Regions from separate parts of the Homo sapiens genome. Here region 2 is linked to region 1. Evidence: fine-mapped expression QTL. A gene starts in region 1. The other region holds a variant in brackets. All regions are shown on one strand. Distances are between the middles of the regions.

Evidence for each region. PIP is the estimated chance that this variant, and not a neighbour inherited with it, causes the effect. A credible set is the group of variants that fine-mapping cannot tell apart.
Region 2: its variant is the best candidate, but not a certain one, in a credible set for the expression of FXYD4 in lung (TOPMed, PIP 0.57).

What each region holds. Positions count from the first base shown.
Region 1 is chr10:43,367,212-43,378,693 of GRCh38, reverse strand. It overlaps FXYD4 (FXYD domain containing ion transport regulator 4), which reads right to left and starts at 7,058. Exons shown (of 9, transcript NM_173160.3): 1 at 6,997-7,058; 2 at 5,922-5,967; 3 at 4,911-5,179; 4 at 4,192-4,224; 5 at 4,055-4,081; 6 at 3,121-3,195; 7 at 2,960-2,999; 8 at 2,625-2,662; 9 at 2,359-2,547. The coding sequence starts at 4,947. The coding sequence ends at 2,528.
Region 2 is chr10:43,424,318-43,435,799 of GRCh38, reverse strand. No RefSeq gene overlaps it. Among named protein-coding and RNA genes, the nearest start is that of ZNF487, 7.1 kb to the left of the region's middle. The variant AG/G (reference allele first, on the strand shown) is at 5,821.

The sequences.
Region 1 (11,482 bases):
CTCCTCTCCTCTAACCTAACCCTAACCCTAATGTCATCCGCATCACATAGGTTGCTAGGAAAATTTGACATGTGTGAAGTGTTTACAGTGGTGTCTGTCACTCAGTAAATCCCCAATTGAGTGGAAATGACACTTTGCTTTCTCTGGTCCCCCCTACCTCTCCCCACAGCCCCTCAACTAGGAGAGGATGACAAGGGGAAATCACCCACCAGCTCTGAAACAGGCCCCAGGAAGGGGTCTCTGACGCACAGCCAGTAATCCCACAAAGGGAAGCCTGGAGAGCCTCTGTCATGCCCTAGTCAGCCCATTCCTCACTCCCAGAAGGGAGAGAGGAGAGCTCGTTTCCCCTGGGAACCAGGGTCCCAACTCCAGGGCCTGGCCTTGTCCATCTGGGGCTAACACTGACTCCATCCTCCACTGTCATCCAGACCTGGCCTCCCATCAGTTTCTGACTCCTCCCACCATGATTTTCCCAGGTTCCATGAGCGAGAGCCGTCACCCTCCACATCAGAGAGATAAGCCTGTCACTGGACAGTCACACCTAGGGACTCGTGTGGTGGGGCCTCCTACATAAGTGGTCACTTATAGGACTTGGGGGAACTGTGACACCTGTCCAGGAGAAGTTTAAATGAAGCAGCATGAGAGCTTGAAAGAAGAGCGGCAGGTCTCCACCACGACGTGGCCCCAGGATACATGTGAAGGTGGAGGTGGGTGGCTGTCACGTCCAGAAACCTCTGCTCCCCAGTGGGGCACTGGGGTTGGAAGTTGAGGCTGCATCTCTTGTCAGGGTCATGGGGCCACCATGCAAGGACAGGGTTTGCTAGGATTTCAAACAGCAGAGCTCCTGATAGTCGTGACTGCGTGGCCCTGGGTTCCTCAGTCAGAAAGCATGCACTGCTTCCGGTCACCTTTGTGTGGCTTCCCCTGGGTCTGCCACTCCAGACTTGGCTTTCTTACCGCACTTTTCATGTTCTCAAAAGCAGTCTCTCACACCAGCGTCTTCCCGTGCCAACGAGGAGAGAGCTCTGCACTGCACCCCCTGGATGAGGAGGCGTGCTCAGGAGCCCCCTTCTACCAGCCCTGCTGGGTGGCTCCCACCCCTGCCTCTGCGTCCTGCAGGGCTGGGCCTTGCCTCCTCAGTGATCCTATCGCCTGCATTCCAGTCGTGCTGCTAATTCCCTCCACCAGGGTGGTTTGCGCACAGGCCCCTCCCTAGGTCCACCTGTGCAGACTCAGCGCTGCCTCTGGGCTGGCCATACCACCTGGGGCTGCTGGTACAGGACAGCTTCCCCAAAGCACTGGGGCTTGCCAGGCCTTCTGTGACCCACCCAAGATTCCCTGATAGTGGCTGGACTCAGCCAGGTATCTTTAGTCCCACTCAGCCCCACCTTGGAACCTTGCTCTCAGTCCCTACGTGTCCTGTTTCAAAGGCCCTGGAAGACATGTGGACCTCATTTTTACACCTCTGGGGCCCTGCACAAGTCTCTGACCCCACCCACAAGGCAGGTGACCCTAAGTCTAGGATACATCATACTTCTCAAGGATGTGGCCCACCCTGAGACATGGAGGAAGGGTGCATCATTGGAGACAGCTGCCCAGCCCAAGCCCTGGCCTCAGATTGGGAGCTGCCACCTGGCGGGGACTCCATTGTTCTCTGGCCTTTGCTGGAGGCAGAGGCTAGAAGTGGTCTCAGTTCCTTCTCCTGGGCTGTCAAGGGGCAGGACTGCAGGATGGGCACCAGGCAGAAGTGGCACTTCACACCCCTGCCTGGGGTGCCACAGGGACATTGCCAGGGAAGTCTTCCTGGAGGGGAGTTCAGGCATGCCAAAGAACTTGGATTTGCACACATGGTGTTTGTCTCCCACATGCACTATGCAGGGCTTCTCGAGACATACTTCTTCATGGAATTTCACAGGATATTTCCTGGGAGGAGGGGGGCCCATGGGGTGAGCTGAGGATTTTACTGGGATGGGTCAAAGGAATTGCTACATTTTCTACCATAGAGAGCATTCACTGGGTGAGGTCTCAATGGGGGGTCTCAATTGAGGTCTCAATGGGGGGGTGAGCCCTGGGGGTCGCTCTAGATTAAAGGAAGTCATGGGTACCTGAGGCATCAGGACTTCTAGGGCCCCCGTGCAAGTGGTGGAAATGGAAAGGTCTTCTGTTATAACACTGTGGTATCTCACAGTGCATGGGTCTCTCTGTGGGGCTTGCTGGAGTGGGAGCCATAGGAGACAGTTGGGCGGCAGGGACTCAGGGACTGGGAAGCTTGCTGGGAGTGGGCATCCAGGGAAAGTCAGCAATCCAAGGGATTACCCACCCCCAGACCCAAAGACGATGGATCACAAGACTACCGAGGAGGGGGTGGTGGGGCGAGTTTAATTCATAAAGAAGCCTCCTGATCAGAAAGGGGCCTAACAGCCTGCCCTTGGAGAGAAGTCCTTCCTTGAGGATAAGGCCTCCCAGGGGAGGAGGTGCTGGGGGCCAGTGTTAGGCTTCAGGCCATCCCTGGAGGCCAGTCCTGTGCTCAGCAAGTAGTGGCAGAGCCTGCGGAGAGTGGCGGGCAGGCCATCAGACACAGTCCTTACACAGACACCCCCTCAGCCCACAGAAGCCCGTCTCACCTGGAGTGATGAGTGGGATGGCCTTCTCAGGTACAGGACTAGAGAAAGGACCACATCAGAGTAGTATCAGGTTAGCCTGGAGGACCTTCTCCCCTATATCCCAGACTCTTGCTGCCCGGCCCCAGGAGTGCAAGTCCTTGCTCTCCTTCCATGGTCACTTCCCACAATACCGAGGTCAGAGCTTTCCTGACTGGGGCCCTTCAGGGTTGACTATCTGAATAACAAAGCCAGCTGCAAGCCCAGCGAGTGGCCAGGATGCTGTCCACTCTCCAGGTCAGGACTGTCCCCCCGTAGTTCTGCCCCGAAGGAGGAGGGCACCATAGGGTCAGGCTCACCTGTGCTGCTTCTGGCTGCTCTTGCATTTGCATTTGCCACCTGGGAGAGAGAGAGGGGTCAGCGCCAGGGTCAGTGCTGGAATGAGAGCACTCTCTCTTTCTGCCCCACCCTGTCCGCCAGCCCCACCCTGTCCTCCAGCCCCACCTGTCCTGCCACTCACTCAGAACTGCCGCGATCCCAGCAATGGCCAGGAGCCCTCCGCAGATCAGTCCGCTCAGCTGCAGGTTTTTCCAGTCTGGGGTGGGTACAGAGAGTGAGCTTGCACCAGCCTGGGGCCTCAGTCATTCATTCAAAAGACACTCCTGAGCCCCTGCTTGTGCCAGCCGCTGCCATATACATAAAGACAAGCCAGCAACAGAGGCATCATTCTGCGTCTCGTGGGGAAACACTAAGAAGAAAAAAAGTGAGGCTGGGTGCGGTGGCTCACATCTGTAATCCCATCACTTTGGGAGGCCGAGGCGGGCAGATCACCTGAGGTCAGAAGTTCGAGACCAGCATGACCAATATGGTGAAACCCCATCTCTACTAAAAATACAAAAATTAGCTAGGCGTGGCGGCAGGCGCCTGTAGTCCCAGCTACTCGAGAGGCTGAGACAGGAGAATTGCTTGAACCCGGGAGATGGAGGTTGCAGTGACCCGAGATCATGCCACTGTACTCCAGCCTAGGCGACAGAGTCAGAATCTGTCTCAAAAAAAAAAAAAAAAAAAAAAAGAAGTGGACATGCGCAAAGAAAGGGCTTTGAAGGATGATCAAGGAAAGCTGTCCTGGAGCTGAGGCCCAGGGGAGAGGAGGAGAGGAGGACTGCCTGAGGGCTGGGGACTAGGGAAAGGGAGGGTGAGGGTGAGTGAAGGCAAGAGGGTAGGGGTGATTTATCGGGGTGCCTAACCACCCAGGCACCAGCCCTTCTCCAGGAGGGTTCCTAAGCATCCTGTGGCCACCCTCCCCTTGTTGGAGCGACGCTCTCACAGAGACCAGGTTTAATCCCCCATCCCACTTTGTCTACACTAGGTCCACACTACCCCTCACCAACTTGTCTAGCAAAGAGGTCCAGGATAGGCAAGGGTAGGGTGGGGGTGGGAATATCAGCTCTTACCATAGTAGAAGGGATCGTCTTTATTGGCTAGAAAAAGTGGGGCAAAAAGACTTCAGAACCAGAACCAGGAGACAGGATGTGGGTGTCAGAGGGGAGATGTGGGCAGAGTGGGCAGGCTGTTTGGGGGCCTCACTCACCAAATGGGTCATTGGCTTCCAAGGCAGTCAGGCCTGTGTGGGAGGAGCAGAGAAAATGTGTGGGAATTCATGACACTGGTGTCCAAGTAAGCCAGACAGCAGGACCCCAGCCCGGAGGTTGTGGGGTGACCCTGGAGCCACCAGTTCCCTTCCTCACGCCCTCCCCAGCCCCACACAGCCTCAGGGTGTGGCCCCGCCCAAGCCCTGCTGTCCCAGGCTTCCTGATGCTCCTGTGTGCATGCTGACTGGGATGGTTTGTTATGTCTCTGCCCCCTGAAGAAACAGGGAATGCTTGTCTTTTTTATGAGTCGGAACCTCTCTCTGTCACCCAGGCTGGAGTGCAATGGTGCAATCCTAGCTCACTGCAACCTCGACCTCCCAGGCTCAAGTGATCCTCCCAGGCTCAAGTGATCCTCCCACCTTGGCCTCCCAAAACACTGGGATTACAGGCCTGAGCCGCTGTGCCACCCTGCTTTTGTCTTCAAGCCACAGGTGGTTAATGTTTTCCATGGTTCAATTCCTCTGGAGCTATTAGGACCTTTTTGCAATATTCTCATCCTACCTGTACTGTCATTTCCTTCATGTTTCTCTCTAAATTGGCAGTTTAAATAAAGCATGCTGATTGAACACCAGACTCCCAAAGGAGATGTTGTCTGGCTTTTGCTGCCTTTGTGGGTGGGGTGAATGCAAGAGGGTCCCAGGAGACTGGGAGGACTCACCTGCCAGTAGGAGAAGGGCCAGGGTCACTCTCTCCATGTCACAGTTCGAGGGGCAGGGCTGCAGGGGGAGAGGCACTGGGGCGGGGGTCTGCAGCCCACGGATCTGCTCCAGGCTCACAGCTCAATTGGTCAGCGAGAGGAGGCAGGGGCGGGGGCAGGCAGAGCCCCATGGTGAAAGTAGGTGTACAAACCCCAAGGATACACTTGCTTGTGGGGAGATCTTGGGAAAGTAACTACTTTCTGTCTTCCCATCTAGAGATGGTGGTGGCCTGGGGGAGTTGTGTGGATTGAGTAAGCACAAGCTAAGAGCTCAAAACTGTGCCTGCACAGAGTAAGTGCTGTAGAAGGCGTTGTTAAAATCCATGCGACAAACCCACCCCCTACTCCTCCCCATGAGGAAGATACTATTATTGTCTCTATTTCAGAGAAGAAAAAAAAAAATGGAGCTTAGAGAGGTGTAATCAGATGCCCAGGGTCAGGTGGCTGCTATTCTAAGTCAGGGTCTGGAGCCTGCCTTCCTAACCCCACACAAAGGGCATTGTTATCAGGCCCCAGGCTATTGTTCCCAAAGGTCTGGGCCTGGGGTGGCCAGAGTCCAGCACCCTCAGTCTGAATTCCCAGAGAGCCTCCACAAAAGCAAGGGTGTGGAGGAGGGAGGGAGTGCTGAGTCCTGGGATGAGATGACTGCAGCAGCCAGGACCTCCCCTGCCAGCCCTGGCAGGGGACCCTACTCCAGCAGACCCAGATTCTGCTCTCAGAGTATAGACCTCCTGTGGTATGACATTTCCCCCTCAGGTTGGAAGTAGCCAGGACCCCATTTACTTGTCCTTAGGGAGGCTGAGTCTTTGAGCGCAGGCCCCCTCCCAGCCCTCTGCATATTGTTAGCCTAGTGTGGTCAAGTTTTCAATACTGAAGCCATTGTCATCATCTGCTGTACCCAGCTCTGGCCTCCTGATGAGATCACAGATCCAGGGCCAGCTGTCTGGGCTGGGTCCCTTCTTAGCAACTTACCAACTGTGTGACTCTGCAGGTTCCTCACTGCTCCTTCACCAGTGTCCTGTAAAAGGAGGATCATCAGAATAGTAGCAACCTCATAAGGTTATAGCGATGGAATTACGTGAACTACTATTTGTCAAGCCTAAGAACTATGCCTAGCACACAGTAAGCACTAAAAACCTGTTACAATAAATACATCCATAGGCCGGGCGCAGTGGCTCACACCTATAATCCCAGCACTTTGGGAGGCTGAGGCGGGTGGATCACCTGAGGTCAGGAGTTCAAGATCAGCCTGGCCAACATGGCAAAACCCCATCTATACTAAAAATACAAAAATTAGCTGAGTGTGGTGACAGGCGCCTGTATTCCCAGCTACTTGGGAAGCTGAGGCAGGAGAATCACTTAAACCTGGAAGGTGGAGGTTGCAGTGAGCCGAGATCCTGGCACTGCACTCCAGCCTGGGCAACAGAGGGAGACTCCATCTCAAAATAAATAAATAAATACATCCATAAATAAACACATGGTCCTTCTGCAGTGGGAGGGAGGCACTGGAGGGAGAGACTGTTAGGCACTGCTTCTGAACATCGGTTCTTGGGCTAGGAGCAGTCTCCAAAGCTGGCTTCCCCCAGCCTTCACTGGTCTCTCTACCTTCACCAACCTGGAGTTCCTGGAATACGAGGGTCTCAACTCTAGGTCACATTTTTTATTTTATTATTATTATTATTACTATTTTTTTTTTTTTTGAGACAGGGTCTTGCTCTGTTACCCAGGATGGAGAGCAGTGGCGTGATCTCGGCTCACTGCAGCCTTGAACTCTCTTGGCTCAGGTGATCTCCTCACCTGAGTATCTCAAGCAGTTGGGACCAGAGGTATACCCCACCAGCTCATATATTCTTTAGCCAAGGGCTGGCTTCTGTTTCCTCCAACCCCCAACCCACCATCCATATGATAGTGGGTGCAAAGCAGGAGGCCTTCAAGCGGCTGCTGCAGCCATATCTGTCCTCAGACCCCTCAACAGGCTCCTCATTACTCAGAATTCTTGGGCACCCACCCCCTTCACCCAGCAGCCCCAAAGTGGACGCCTGCTCACCTGCGAGGTCACCTTGGCGAGGGCTCACCTGAGCTGGCAGCGCAGAGAACGGATCTGAGGAGGCTGCTGGGCACGTGGGTCGGCTCTTTAAACCCTGCAGCCACGCCCAGGGCTCCATGACGCAGGCTGGAGGGAACTGGTCAGGCTCCCTGCCACACCCAGGGCTGTTGGGGAGGGGCGGGCTGGGCCGAAGACCCTCTTTTGGCTTCTTTTTTTTTTTTTTTTTTTTTTTTTTTTCTTTTTTTGAGATGGAGTCTCACTCTGTCACCCGGGCTGGAGTGCAGTGATGCAATCTCAGCTCACTGCAACCTCTGCCTCCTGGGTTCAAGCAATTCCCCTGCCTCAGGCTCCCGAGTAGCTGGGACTACAGGTGCACGCCACCACACCTGGCTAATTTTTTTTGTATTTTAGTAGAGATGGGGTTTCAATGTGTTGCCCAGGCTGGTCTCCAACTCCTGAGCTCAGGCAATCCGCCCACCTCGGCCTCCCAAAGTGCTAGGATTACAAGCGTGAGCCACCGCGCCCAGCCTTTCTTTTGGCTTCTTTAGCTCACCCAGATCCTAAAAGAGGGACCTGGAGGGTGCTGGGCAGGGTGTTCCTGGGCTCTTGTGCCAGCTTTGGGGGTTCTGGGACCTCTGTGTGGGGGTGTCCTGGGGACCACGGAGGATACCAGGAGCCAGGCACTGACCTTGAGGCTCCCTGTGCTCAGCAGTGCCATGCCACTGCTGTCACTTGGGCTGGGTGTCTACTGAAGGGAGGCTGGTGGCCGATGGGCACCCCCGGGGGTGGCTCACCCTCTGACAGGGCCCTGACACCCACTTAGCCTCCCCCACAGGTGAGGGATGGGGCCAGGAGGAGGATAGACGCCCCCGGCTGAGGAGTGGGCTGCCTCCCTCTGCAGACCTCAGGCCTGCCTTGTTGCTGGGGGCCAAAGTCACCCCACACAGGCGTGTGGAGGACCCCAGGCCTCCCTAGTCTGCTGTTACCCCTCCTTAATTCTTTTCCAAATGAGGGACACTTGTCCCTGTCCAGAAGGTAAGGGGGGATGGCTGACAAGGGATGGGGGTCTCTGGGCTGGGAGGGCTGGGGAGGGCAATGATGGTTTAGTTGGTTTGTTTGTTTATTTATATATTTATTTTTGAGCTGGAATTTCGCTCTGTCGCCCAAGCTGGAGTGCAGTGGCTCGATCTTGGCACACCACAACCTCCACCTCCCAGGTTCAAGCAATTCTGTCTCAGCCTCCCGAGTAGCTGGGATTACCGGCACACACCACTGTGCCCAGCTAATTTTTGTATTTTTAGTAGAGATGGGATTTCGCTATGTTGAGCAGGCTGGTCTCGAGCTCCTGACCTCAGGCGATCCACTGCCTCGGCCTCCCAAAATGCTGGGATTACAGGTGTGAGACACTATGTCTGGCCCAGACATACTTTTAAGTGGAAAAAAAGTATAGGGCAGTCTGAATAGGATGCTGTCACTTGTGTAAAAATATAAAATATTGGTTGGGAAAGGCGGCTCACGCCTGTAACCCCAGCACTTTGGGAGGCTGAGGTGGGCCTGTGTCTGTGTGCATGCTGCATGGGGCTTAGCACAGAGGAGGCGTCCCGGTGTTTCCTCAGCCAGCTGTTTACTTGAGTTCATTGCATATATGACTGCACCTAGCCCTCACAGAAGTCTTTGGAGGTTCATACTCTCATTAGCCTGTCAATCTACAATAGTCAAACAGGTTAGATTTTAGTTTAAAGGAGTTTATTTAAGTGTAAAGGTTAAGGATGGCCTGCTCAGGAAGTAAGGATGGTAAAGAATGGAAGTCATGGCTGGGGGCGGTGGCTCACGGTTGTGATCCCAGCACTTTGGGAGGCTGAGGAGGGCAGAACATGAGATCAGGAGTTCAAGACCAGCCTGGCCAACAAGGTGAAACCCCGTCTCTACTAAAAATACAAAAATTAGCCGGGCGTGGTGGCGCGCTCCTGTAGTCCCAGCTACTTGGGAAACTGAGGCAGGAGAATCGCTTGAACCTGGGAGGCGGAGGTTGCAGTAAGCTGAGATCGTGCCACCGCACTCCAGCCTCAGCGACAGAGCGAGACTCCATCTTAAAAAAGAAAAAAAGAGAAGAATGGAAGTCAGAGTTTTAAAGTCTCGGTGGAGTGTGGGGGTTAAATCCTGACACTCTGGGAGGCCAAGGTGGGCAGATCACTTGAGCCCAGGAGTTTGAGACCAGTCTGGGCAACATAGCGAGACCCCATCTCTACAAAAAAAAATAGAACAAACAGCCTGGCGTGGTGGCACACACCTATACTCCAGCAGAGGTGGGAGGATCGCTTCAGCATGGGAGGTCAAGGCTGCTGTGAGCCCAGAAAGCACCACTGCACTCCAGCCTGGGTGACAGAGGGAGACCTGTCTCACAATAAATACGTAAAATGTAGAAGTTTGGGATCATTTATTTTATTTTTATTTTTTTGAGACAGAGTCTCATTCTGTTGAGACAGAGTCATTCTGTTGCCCAAGCTAGAGTGCAGTGGCACGATCTCTGCTCACTATAACCTCCGCCTTTTGGGTTCAAGTGATTCTTGTGCCTCAGCCTCCTGAGTAGCTGAGATTACAGGCCCGAGCCTCCATGCCCAGCTAATTTTTTCTATTTTTAGTAGAGACAGTGTTTCACTACTTTGACCAGGCTGGTCTCAAACTCCTGACCTCAAGTGATCCACCTGCCTCGGACTCCGAAAGTGCTGGGATTACAGGCATGAGCCACCGTGCCTGGCCTGGGATCGTTTATATAGACACAGTTTAGGAACGTTTAACAGGATTTTAGCTGTTTTTTTAATCTTTTTTGAGACAGGGTCTCCCTCTGTCGCCCAGGCTGAAGTGCAATGATACAGTCATGGCTCTCTGCAGCCTCGACCTTCTGGAACAAGCAATTCTCCTGCCTCACCCTCCTGCGTAGCTGGGACTACAAGTGCACGCCACCACGCCAGGCTAATTTTTGTATTTTTTTTGGTAGAGACAGTTTTGCCATGTTGCCCAGGCTGGTCTCAAACTTCTGGGCTCTAGTGATTCACTTCCCTTGGCTGCCTAAAGTGTTGGGATTACAGATGTGAGCCACCCACTGCCGCTGGCTGAATTTTAACTTTTAAAATTTAAGGTTTAATGCATAGTTATAATGATCTGGGCCGAGTGTGGTGGCTCACGTCTGTAATCCTAGCACTTTAGGAGGCCGAGGCAGGTGGATCACCTGAGGTCGGGAGTTCGAGATCAGCCTGACCAACATGGAGAAACCCCATCTCTACTAAAAACACAAAATTCGCCGGGCGTGGTGGCGCATGCCTGTAATCCCAGCTACTTGGGAGGCTGAAGCAGGAGAATTGCTCGAACCTAGGAGGCAGAGGTTGCAGTGAGCCAAGATTGCGCCATTGCACTCCAGCCTGGGCAACAAGAGTGAAACTCCATCTCAAAAAAAAAATGATCTGATCAGTTGAGGTAGTCTTTCTTTAGGAGGAAGTTCTATTTAACACTTTATTTATTTAAAATTTAAATATTTGTATATAAAATGAAGGCTGAGTCAGGCTGGGGGTGGTAGCTCACGCCTGTAATCCCAGCACATTGGGAGGCCGAGGTGGGAGGATCACGAGGTCAGGAGTTTGAGACCAGCCTGGCCAACATACTGAAATCCCGTCTCTACTAAAAAATACAAAAAATTAGCTGGGCATGGTGGCGGGAGCCCGTAATCCCAGCTATTCGGAAGGCTGAGGCAGGAGAATCACTTGAAGCCAGTGGGTGGAGGTTGCAGTGAGCCGAGATCAGCCATTGCACTCCAGTCCAGGGAACAGTGCGAGACTCCGTCTCAAAAAAAAAAAAAGTGAAGGCTAGGTCTCACTATGTTGCCCAGGCTGATCTTGAACTCTTGGTCTCTTGCCTTGGACTCCCAAAGTGCTGGAATTATAGTGGTGAGCCACTCCTCTCAGCCAATTTATTCATTTTTTAAATTAAAACATATGGAATCAGCCTGGACAACATGGTGAAACCCTATCTCTACCAAAAATAGAAAAAATTAGCCAGGCGTGGTGGTGCACACCTGTGGTCCCAGCTACTTGGGAGGCTGAGGCAGGAGGATAGCTTGAGCCTAGGAAGCAGAGGCTGCAGTGAGCTGAGATCTCGCCACTGCACTCCAGCCTGAGTGACAGGGTGAAACCCTGTGTGTGTGTGCGTGCGTGTGTGTGTGTATATATATATATATATGGGATGAGATATATATATATATGGGATGAGATATATATATATATATAGTCAGGAGATTGAGACTATCCTGGCTAACACGGTGAAACCCCGTCTCCACTAAAAATACAAAAAATTAGCCGGGCGTGGTGGCGGGCGCCTGTAGTCCCAGCTACTCGGGAGGCTGAGGCAGGAGAACAGCGTGAACCCAGGAGGCGGAGCTTGCAGTGAGCTGAGATCGCGCCACTGCACTCCAGCCTGAGCAACAGAGCGAGAC
Region 2 (11,482 bases), 57 kb before region 1:
TGATCTCCTGACCTCGTGATCCGCCCGTCTCGGCCTCCCAAAGTGCTGGGATTACAGGCATGAGCCACCGTGCCCGGCCTGGTGTCGAACTCTTGACCTCAGGTGATCCACTGGCCTCGGCCTCCCAAAGTGGTAGGATTACAGGCGTGAGCCACCGCGCCCCTGCCCAAGAGTTGTCATTTCTGTAGCAAAGCAGCTAAGCAATATTCTTTTGCCTGCCACCTAAATGTGATTAGGTGCAGCATCATTAAGAAAAAAAATAAAAAGCCCGGGCGTGGTGGCTTACGCCTGTAATCCTAACACATTGGGAGGCCAAGGCGGGTGGATCACCTGAGATCAGGAGTTTAAGATCAGTCTGGCCTACATGGTGAAACTCCAACTCTACTAAAAATTCAAAATTAGCTGGGTGTGGTGGCACATGCCTGTGATCCCAGTTATTCGGGAGGCTGAGGCAGGAGAATAGCTTGCACCCGGGAGGCAGAGGTTGCTGTGAGCCGAGATCTCGCCATTGCACTCCAGCCTGGGCAACAAGAGCGAGACTCTGTCCCAAAAAAAAAAAAAAAAAAAAAAAAAAGCCCTGAGACCCACGGTAGCTGGCCTGGATTACTTGATGAACATAAACAGGTTCACAGAAAATTGATATCAGACGAGTTCTTTCTGTGACTGAGGGAAGGAGAAAATAATTCCGATCAGTGATCTTGCCTGCATAAATAAAAACTGGCACTGCGCAACCACACACACAGAAGAATAAACATCCCTTCTTCAGCTAGCATGAGTAATTACTGCTTTTTCTCCAATGACAGCTTTAGCTCCTCTCTATTCCTCCTGCTTTCTGGATTTAAAAAAAATTTTTTTTTTTTTTTTTTGAGAAGGAGTCTTGCTCTGTCGCCCAGGCTGGAGTGAAGTAGCACAATTTCGGCTCACTGCAACCTCTGCCTCCCAGGTTCAAGCAATTCTCCTGTCTCAGCCTCTCGAATAGCTGGGATTACAGGCACCTGCCACCTAGTAGAGATGGGGTTTCACCAGGTTGGCCAGGCTGGTCTCAAACTCCTGACCTCAAGTGATCGCCTGCCTCGGCCTCCCAGAGTGCTGGGATTACAGGCATGAGCCACCGCGCCCCACCTAAAATTGTTGAAATAATCTTTGAGTGGCCGGGCGCGGTGGCTCACGCCTGTAATCCCAGCACTTTGGGAGGCCGAGGCGGGCGGATCACGAGGTCAGGAAATCGAGACCATCCTGGCTAACACGGTGAAACCCCGTCTCTACTAAAAATACAAAAAATTAGCCGGGCGAGGTGGCGGGCGCCTGTAGTCCCAGCTACTCGGGAGGCTGAGGCAGGAGAATGGCGTGAACCCCGCGGGGCGGAGCCTGCAGTGAGCCGAGATCGCGCCACTGCACTCCAGCTTGGGTGAAAAAGCGAGACTCCATCTCAAAAAAAAAAATAATAATAATCTTTGAGTTGCCCCTGTTAGTACAGCACCAATCCAAAACACACCCCTGTCCTTGGACCCTCCCCAAAATCACCAGCCACAAGTCCAAATGGTATAACAAGCCCTCTAACAAGTCTCCTAAGACACCCCATGGTTTCAGAGGTGTGATGTCTCATTGCAGCAACTAACAGCCCCAAATAATAACTAGTTCACAGTGAGGAATATATGCATTCACTGAAATAGCAAATCATCATTCCACCATATGTATGCCTTTTGTAGTCTGACTGGTAGACACGGCAAATATAGATACACTTATATATGAAGGATACGTAACTCATATGCACAAATGAAACTTCAGAGCCTATACTCTAATGAAAAATCAAAATAAATTTTTCTTTCTTTTTTTTTTTAACTCTTTGAGACAGGGTCTTGCACCATCCCCTAGCCAGGAGTGCAGTGGCAGGATCTCAGCTCGCTGCAGCCTTGACAGCTCAAGCAATCTTCCCACCTCAGCCTCTCAGCCTCCCGGTAGCTGGGACGACAGGGGGTCACCACCACACCCAGCTGATTTTTTTTTTTTTTTTTTTTTGAGATGGTGTCTCGCACTGTCTCCCGGGCTGGAGTGCAATGGTGCGATCTCGGCTCACTGCAACCTCCACCTCCCAGGTTCACGGGATTCTCCTGCTTCAGCCTCCGGAGTAGTTGGGATTACAGGCGCACACCACCACACCCGGCTAACTTTTTGTGTTTTTAGTAGAGAGGGGGTTTCACTATGTTGGCCAGACTGGTCTCAAACTCCTGACCTCATGATCTGTCCTTCTTGGCCTCCCAAAGTGCTGGGATTACAGGGTTGAGCCACCGTTCCTAGCCACACCCAGCTGATTTTTAAATTTTTTTGGAGAGACACAGACTTGCTATGTTACCTAGGCTGGTCTCTAACTCCTGGGCTCAAGTGATCCTCCTCCTGCATTGGCCTCCCAAAGTGCTGGGATTACAGCTGTGAGCCACTGCATCTGGCCAAAACAAACATTTCTTTTTTTTTTTTTTTTTTTGGACACTGAGTCTTGCTATGTTGTCCAGGCTAGAGTGCTGGGGTGTGATCTTGACTCACTGCAACCTCTGCCTCCCAGGTTCAAGCGATTCTCCTGCCTCATCCTCCCAAGTAGCTGGGACTACAGGCACACACCACCACGCCTGGCTCATTTTTGCATTTTTAGTAGAGACAAGGTTTCACCATGTTGCCCAGGCTGGTCTTGAACTCCTGAGCTTAAGTGATCCTCCTGCTTTGGCCTCCCAAAGTGCTGGGATTACAGACGCGAGCCACTGCACCCAGCTAATTTTTTTATTTTTAGTAGAGATGGGGTTTTGCCATGTTCGCCAGGTTAGTCTCAAACTCCTGACCTCAGGTGATCTGCCCACCTCGGCCTCCCAAAGTGCTACTCGGGAGGCTGAGGCAGGAGAATGGCGTGAACCCGGGAGGCGGAGCTTGCAGTGAGCCGAGATTGCGCCACTGCACTCCAGCCTGGGCAACACAGCAAGACTCCGCCTCAAAAAACAAAAAAAAATTAGCCAGGCATGGTGGCAGGCGCCTGTAATCCCAGCTACTCGGCAGGCTGAGGTGGGAAAATCGCTTGAACCTGGGAGGCAGAGGTTGCAGTGAACCGAGATCACGCCACTGCCTAGGCAACAGTGCGAGACTCTGTCTCAAAAAAAAAAAAAATACAAAAATTAGCTGGGCATAGTGGCGCAAGCCTGTAGTCCCAGCTACTGGGGAGGCAGAGGTGAGAGAATCGCTTGAACTTGGGAGGCAGATGTTGCAGTGAGCTGAGATCGTGCCATTGCAACATAGGGAGGCCCCATCTCAAAAAAAAAAAAAAAAAAAGAACCACAGATGTAGCCAGGCACAGGGGCTGATGCGTGTAATCCCAGCTACTCAGGAGGCTGTGGTGAGAGAATCATTTGAGCCTGGAACTTTAAGACCAGCCTAAGCAACGTAGTGAGACCCTGTCTCTAAAAAAAAAAATTTTAGGCCAGGTGCGGTGGCTCACGCCTGTAATCCCAGCACTTTGGGAGGCTGAGGCAGGTGGATCATGAGGTCAGGAGTTCAAGACCAGCCTGGCCAAGATGGTGAAACCCTGTCTCTATAAAAAATACAAAAATTTTCCTGGTGTGGTGGCGGGCACCTGTAATCCCAGCTAATCGAGAAGCTGAGGCAGAGAATTGCTGAGATCACGCCACTGCACTCCAGCCTGGGCAACAAGAGCAAAACTCCGTCTCAAAAAAAAAAAATTTTTTTTAATAAGCTAAAACAGGCTGGGAACATGGCTAAAACCCGTCTCTACAGAAAACATACAAAAAAATTAGCTAGGTGTGGTAGCAAGTGCTGGTGGTCCCAGCTACTCAGGAGGCTGAGGTGGAAAGATCACCTGAGCCCAGGACGTTGAGGCTACAGTGAGCCATGATCATGCCACTGCACTACAGCCTGGGCAACAGAGTAAGACTCTATCTCAAAATAATTAATTAAAATAAATATAAAATTAAATTTAAAACCCCAAATGTGGCTGAGTGTGGTGGCTTACACCTATAATCCTAGCACTTTGGGAGGCTGAGGCAGGAGGATCAATTAAGCCCAGGAGTTTGAGACCAGCCTGGGCAACACAGTGGGACCCTGTCTCTATAAAAAATAAAACCCACAAATCTGCAGGAGGAACAGGAAAAGTTTTGGTAAGGCGGCATTGTCAAATCAAAAGAGAAGGAAGGAAGGTATCTCTTTAGACTCTGCAAACACATTGACACATCTCCTGAGCTTTTCTTGGTGTTGTCAGCATCACCCAGCCCCATCCCCTACTCCTAGACTTCCCCAGACACAGAAATTAATCAACACTGTACAGGACAACCAACAAAACAGAAAATAGGGTACTCAAGCCTGGACACCAGACAGTCACCATGGGACAGCCCAGCCTTCTGCAGTAATAGTGGACAGATGTTTCCATTCAGGGAATCCAATAATAAAAGGAAAATAAATGTGCATGTTAAGGGCAGAAAAGAGGGAGAAGAGGGATTACTTGACTTACAGCAATTGCAGCTTGGAGTCTGTCTTCCAGAATCTGATGGCTTTCATAATTATGTGGTATGAGTGGAGGCTACCTCTGTAGCAGTGCTGTAGAATAGAATATAGAAATACATAAGCCAGCCAGGCACAGTGGTTCACGCCTGTAATCCCAGCACTGTAGGAGGCAGAGGTGGGTGGATCCTCTGAGGTCAGGAGTTCAAGACTAGCCTGACTGACATGGAGAAACCCTGTCTCTACTAAAAATATAAAATTAGCCAGGCATGGTGGCGCATGCCTGTAATCCCAGCTACTCCGTAGGCTGGGGCAGGAGAATTGCTTGAACCCAGGAGGCGGAGGTTGTGGTGAGCCGAGACCGCGCCACTGCACTCTAGCCTGGGCGACAGAGCAGGACTCTGTCTCAAAAAAAAAAAAAAATTGCTACTAGCTGCATTTATAAAAGTAAAAAGAAACGGGTGAAATTAATGTTAATATTTTATTTGATTCAATATATCCAAACTATTATATTTCACATGTGATTAATAAAGTTATCCATGAGACATTTGACATTCTTTTTTTCTGTATTGTCTTTGAAACCTGGTATTACAGCACATCTCAATGCATATGCTATATCTTCCTGGGTATACTTAATTTTTATTTAGAATCCATAAAAATAATAGTTGACGCTGGGTGCAGTGGCTCAAGCCTGTAATCCCAGCACTTTGGGAGGCCGAAGCGGGCAGATCACGAGGTCAAGAGATCGAGACCTTCCTGGCCAATATGGTGAAACCCCGTCTCTACTAAAAATACAAAAATTAGCTGGACATGGTGGTGGGTGCCTGCAGTCCCAGCTACTCAGGAAGGTGAGGCAGGATAATCGCTTGAACCTTGGAGGTGGAGATTGCAGTGAGCCGAGATCAGGCCACTGCACTCCAGCCTGGCGACAAAGCAACACTCTGTCTCAAAAATAAAATAAAATAATAGTTGAAAAAGTAGATTCACATACCCAAGTTGTTCTAAACATACTTAAAAGTCTTCTAGGCCGGGCGCAGTGGCTCATGCCTGTAATCCCAGCACTTTGGGAGGCCGAGGCGGGTGGATTGCCTGAGATCAGGAGTTCGAGACCAGCCTGGCCAACATAGTGAAACCCTGTCTCTATTAAAAATACAAAAAAATTAGCTGGGCGTGGTGGTGGGCACCTGTAATCCCAGCTACTAAGGAAGCTGAGGCAGGAGAATCACTTGAACCCATGAGGCAGAGGTTGCAGTGAGCCGAGATCATGCCATTGCACTCCAGCCTGGGCAACAAGAGCAAAACTCTTGTCTCAAAAGGAAAAAAAAA[AG/G]TCTTCTAATAACTGAATGAGTATTTGTTTTTAAATTTAAGGCAAGGACATGAAGAAATGTCAGCTCTATGTACTGTTGATAGAAATGTAAAATGGTGCAGCACTATGGAAAAGAGTTCTGGCAGATCCTCAGGAAACAGAATTACCATACATACGATCCAGCAGTACCACTTTTGGGTATATATGCAAAAGAATTCAAAGCAGAAACTCAGATATTGTATGTTCATCTTCATAGCAGCATTATTTACAATAGTCAAAAGATAGAGGTGAGTCAAGTGTCCACTGGTTAGATGAATGGATGAACAAAATGTGGTATATACATACAGTGGAGTTTATTGTTGTTTTTCTTTCTGAGACGGAGTCTTGCTGTGTTGCCCAGGCTGGAGTGCAGTGGCACCATCTTGGCTCACTGCAACCGCTGCCTCCTGGGTTCAAGCAGTTCTCCTGCCTCAGGCTCCCTAGTAGTTGGGATTACAGGCGCATGCCACCACACCTGGCTCATTTTTGTATTTGTAATAGAGACGGGGTTTCACCATGTTGACCAAGCTGGTCTCGAACTCCCAACCTCAGGTGATCCACCCACCCCAGCCTTCCAAAGTGCTGGGATTACAGACAAAGCAAGACCCTGGCTCAAAAAATAATACAATACAATAAAATAAAAAGTCAGCCTCTCAGTGGCACTAACCACATTTCTTTTTTTTTTCGCGACAGAATCTCGCTCTTTCACCCAGGCTGGAGTGCAGTGGTGCGATCTCGGCTCACTGCAACCGCTGCCTCCCGGGTTCAAGTGATTCTCCGGCCTCAGCCTCCCGAGTAGCTGGGACTACAGGTGCGTGACACCACGCCTGGCTAATTTTTTGTATTTTTAGTAGAGACATGGTTTCACCATGTTAGCCAGGATGGTCTCGATCACCTGATCACGTCATCCGCCAGCCTTGGCCTCCCAAAGTGCTGGGATTATAGACGTGAGCCACCGCGCCTGGCCAAACTAACCACATTTCAGGTGCTCAACAACTTTTCATGGCTAAATGGCCCCTGTATCATACAATGAGCTCTAGTCTGAGACAGAACAATGGAAGTCCTATCTTAAACCTGACCTGTTGCTCAGTCTGTATGCTAAGGTACTGCCTTTCTTGACTTACCCTGAAGGGTTGGAACCCCTTTATCTGACAAGCCTTGCTTATTATTCTGTTATTTCACAATATGCTGCAGTATGCTGTGGGAGTTTTACTAATATGTATAGAAGAGGCCGGGCGCAGTGGCTCATGCCTGTAATCCCAACATTCTGGGAGGCTGAGGTGAGTGGATCACTTGAGGTCAGGAGTTCGAGACCAGCCTGGCCAACATGGTAAAACCCCAACTTTACTAAAAATACAAAAATTAGCCAGGCGTGGTGGCACATGCCTATAATCCCAGCTACTCAGGAGGCTGCGGCAGTAGAATCGCTTGAACCCAGAAGGCAGAGGTTACAGTGATCCAACATTGCGTCACTGCACTCCAGGCTAGGCAACAGAGTGAGACTCTGTCTAAAAAAAAAAAAAGTATAGAAGAAAAATGCAGCCTCCTAATATGCTATCCATCGACTTTTACTCTGTGGATGCAAAATTTCTCAGAATGGAGGCATAGGGAGCTTACTCTAACTCCGTTTGTCGACTCATGAAATTGTACCCTAACATGGATGACTTCACACCAAAGGCACTGACCCAATGTCTATGAATTGAAAGCAGCTTATTGTAAGGTTGTCTCATTTATGAACAGCACAGGGACTTGATATCTGAAACGGAGGGTGAAGGAGCGCTGCTCCATAGGCTTCAGGAGGGTTTGCTCTGACTTTGCTTCAAGGGCTTAATGTGGTTGGTTTTAATTTAGTTTTTAGTACAGTATAGGGTTCCTAACAGGTGCACAATATACATTTATTTCAGATAAGGATTGATTGGAAATGTGCTATTTTTATATTAGTCTTTATATTTCATTGCTGTGTGATTTAATCAAACTTTTCAATTCTCAAATATTCTGTTTGTTTCCAATTACATGCAGCTCCTGCATGTGTCTTCTTTTCTGAAAACGTATAATATCTGACTTATCCCTCAGCTTGGCAGTAAGCGCTCTAAAAAGCAAGGATGCTGGCCAGGCGCGGTGGCTCACGCCTGTAATCCCAGCACTTTGGAAGGCCGAGGCGGGCAGATCACGAGGTCAGGAGTTTGAGACCAGCCTGGCCAGCATGGTGAACCCCTGTCTCTACTAAAAATATAAAAAATTATCTGGTCATGGTGGTGCATGCCTGTAATCCCAGCTACTCAGGAGGCTGAGTCAGAAGAATCACGTGAACCCAGGAGGCGGAGGTTGCAATGAGCCAACATCGCACCACTGCACTCCAGCCCGGGCGATAGAGCGAGACTCTGTCTCAAAAAAAAAAAAAGCAAGGATGCTGGTATCCAACACGTTAAAAAATAAATAAAAGCAAGGACAGAACAGTTTAATTCTTCTTAACTTCTATACCATCAGGCACAGAGCTCAATAAATTTTCAGTATTTGCTGACTACTAGAAATATTTTTTCCGTAAGAGTTCATGTGCATTTTAATCTTACTATATATGCTGCTGAAGTGAGCACATGTTCACATGTATTTTGTGGTTTTTTTGGTTTTGGTTTCTTTTTTTTTTTTTTTTTTGAGACAGTCTCCTCTGTCACCCAAGCTGGAGTGCAGTGGTGTGATTTCAGCCCACTGCAACCTCCGCCTCCTGGATTCTAGTGATTCTGCTCCCTCAGCCTCCCTGCTGGGTTCTAGTGATTCTCCTGCCTCAGCCTCCCAAGTAACTGGGACTCCAGGCACGCACCACCATGCCTGGCTTATTTTTAAATTTTTATTAGAGACAGGGTTTCACTATTGGTTGGCCAGGCTGGTTTCAAACTACTGAATTCAAGTGATAGGCCCACGTCGGCCTCCCAAAATGCTGGGATTACAGGCGTCAGCCACCATGCCCGGCCTACATGTATTTTCTTTTTCTTTTTTTTTTTCTTTTTTTTTTTTTTGAGATAGTCTCAGGCTGCCGTCCAGGCTGGAGTGCAATGGCATGATCTCAGCTCACTGCAACCTCCTCCACCTCCCGGGTTCAAGCGATTCTTTTGCCTCAGCCTCCCAAGTAGCTGGGATTACAGGCGCCCGCCACCACACCCGGCTAATTTTTGTATTTTTAGTAGAGACAGAGTTTCACCATGTTGGTTAGGCTAGTCTTAAACTCCTGACCTCAGGTGATCCACCCGCCTTGGCCTCCCAAAGTGGTGAGATTACAGGCGTAAGCCACCATGACTGGCCGTTTTTTTTTGTTTTTTTTTTTGTTTTTTTTTGAGGCAGGGTCTCACTCAGGTTGCCCATGCTGGAGTGCAATGGCGCCATCTCGGCTCACTGCAACCTCTGTCTCCTGGGTTCAAGCGATTCCCCTGCCTCAGCCTGCTGAGTAGCTGGGATTACAGGCAAGCGCCACCACACCTGGCTAATCTTGTATTTTTAGTAGAGTCGGGGGTTTTTCCATGTTGGCCAGGCTGGTCTCAAACTCCCAACCTCAGGTGATCCATCTGCCTCGGCCTCCCAAAGTGCTGGGATTATAGGCATGAGTCACCGTGTCCGGCCAAAAACATTTTTTTAAAGAGATTGAGGGGGAGGGGGGTCTCACTATGTTGCCCAGGCTGGTCTCCAGCTGACCTCAAGTAATTCTCCTGCTTTAGCCTCCCAAAGTGCTGGAATTACAGACATGAGCCACCACATCTAACCCATAAAGGCACATTTAAGGGGCATGGTTGCCCAAGTGCATTTCAGCACCAGAAAGAACCATGGGGAGAGGATCCCAGCCATGGAAACAGACCTGTCAGGTGTGGTCAAGATGAATGAAAACTAACTTTGTGGCTAAGTCAGCCAACTTACAGGAAATCAGCAAACTGATAGGAAATAATATTTATAGTTAACATTTTTAGGAAACCAAATTGCTTTTCACTGCTTTTACAGATATCGGTAGACTTACTTATAGATTCAGTATTCATTACTTCGTTGTATATTGAATCAAGTGGCCCTCTCTCTCTTAAGGGATGAAAGTTAGGCCTGGCTGGCAGAAGTGAGACTGGCTGGGATAGAAGAGAAAGAGTCCCAGTTAAGACCCGTTATAGCTGGGCGCGGTGGCTCACGCCTGTAATCCCAGCACTTTGGGAGGCTGAGGTGGGCAGATCTCGAGGTCAGGTGATTGAGACCATCCTGGCTAACAGGGTGAAACCTCATCTCTACTAAAAATACAAAAAATTAGCTGGGCGTGGTGGCGGGCGCCTGTAGTCCCAGCTACTCAGGAGGCTGAGGCAGGAGAATGGTGTGAACCCAGGAGGCGGAGCTTGCAGTGAGCCGAGATGGTGCCACTGCACTCCAGCCTGGGCGACAGAGCGAGACTCTGTCTCAAAAAAAAAAAAAGACCCATTATTTTGCTGTCCAGAAAACTTATCCCAGGGAAGCTAAGCTAAGCAACTTTGGAAAAGTTGCCTAAATGGTGAATAGCTGCACAGAAACCCACTGTGCCTGAGTCCTATTCTAACCATCTTCCTCTCAAGCCAGACTGATTTATTTGCTATGTGTGTATGCATGTGTGTGTCTCCTTGCTTTGCCCAGTAAAAAGTACTATAAGTACCATACCATAAGTACAAAGTAGTGTAAGACTGTAAAAGTGAGCATACAAGCTGATACCATGCAAAGCAATCTTAATGATCAATGAGAAAAATTATGATTGTTCTGTGACTTTCAAAATTTTTTGCCAAAACATTAAAAACTCTTTCAGTTTGAAATGTACAGGGAAATGAAAATAGTAAAACTAATATTTATCTGGTACTATGTAATTTAATACATTAGAAATATTGAGGCCAGGCGCAGTGGCTCACACTTACAATCCCAGCACTTTGGGAGGCCAAGTTGGGCAAATCACCTGAGGTCAGGAGTTTGAGACCAGCCTGGTCAACATGGTGAAACCCTGTCTCTACTAAAAATACAAAAATTAGCCAGGTGTGGTGGTGGGCGCCTGTAGTCTCAGCTACTTGGGAGGCTGAGACAGGAGAATCACTTGGAACCGGGAGGCGGAGTTTGCAGTGAGCTGAGATTACACTATTGCACTCCAGCCTGGGTGACAGAGTGAGACTCCATCCCCCAACAACAACAATAAAAAAAAGAAAAGAAAAGAGAAAGAAAGAAATATTGAGAATTAGTTTTCTTTGTAAAAACCTACCAAGAGGCCCGGTATGGTGGGAGACAAGAAGCAACACAACCACATGCCTTTCTGTGCATGAGTGAACGAAATAACAGACTTTCAAAGAAATTACGCAACTTGTCACTGATCATGTACATTTGTTATTCACAGTGCTTTGTGCACTGACGAGCTGGCAACGAAGTTTATATTTTATGTAATTGCTCATACTTAACATACTGTAGTAACTGATATTTGAACCCTGTTGTTGGGAGACTGATGTTACTTAACAAAACCATGGTAAGCGAAATCCATGCATATCTGGGCCTTGTACAATCAAGTCTGGCTGTATAATGTATTTCTATGACATTGGACAAGTCCCTCCGAGAGATAAAACCACCCATCTCTCAGAGTTACCATGCGAAGTAGTGATCACATAAATATGTTCT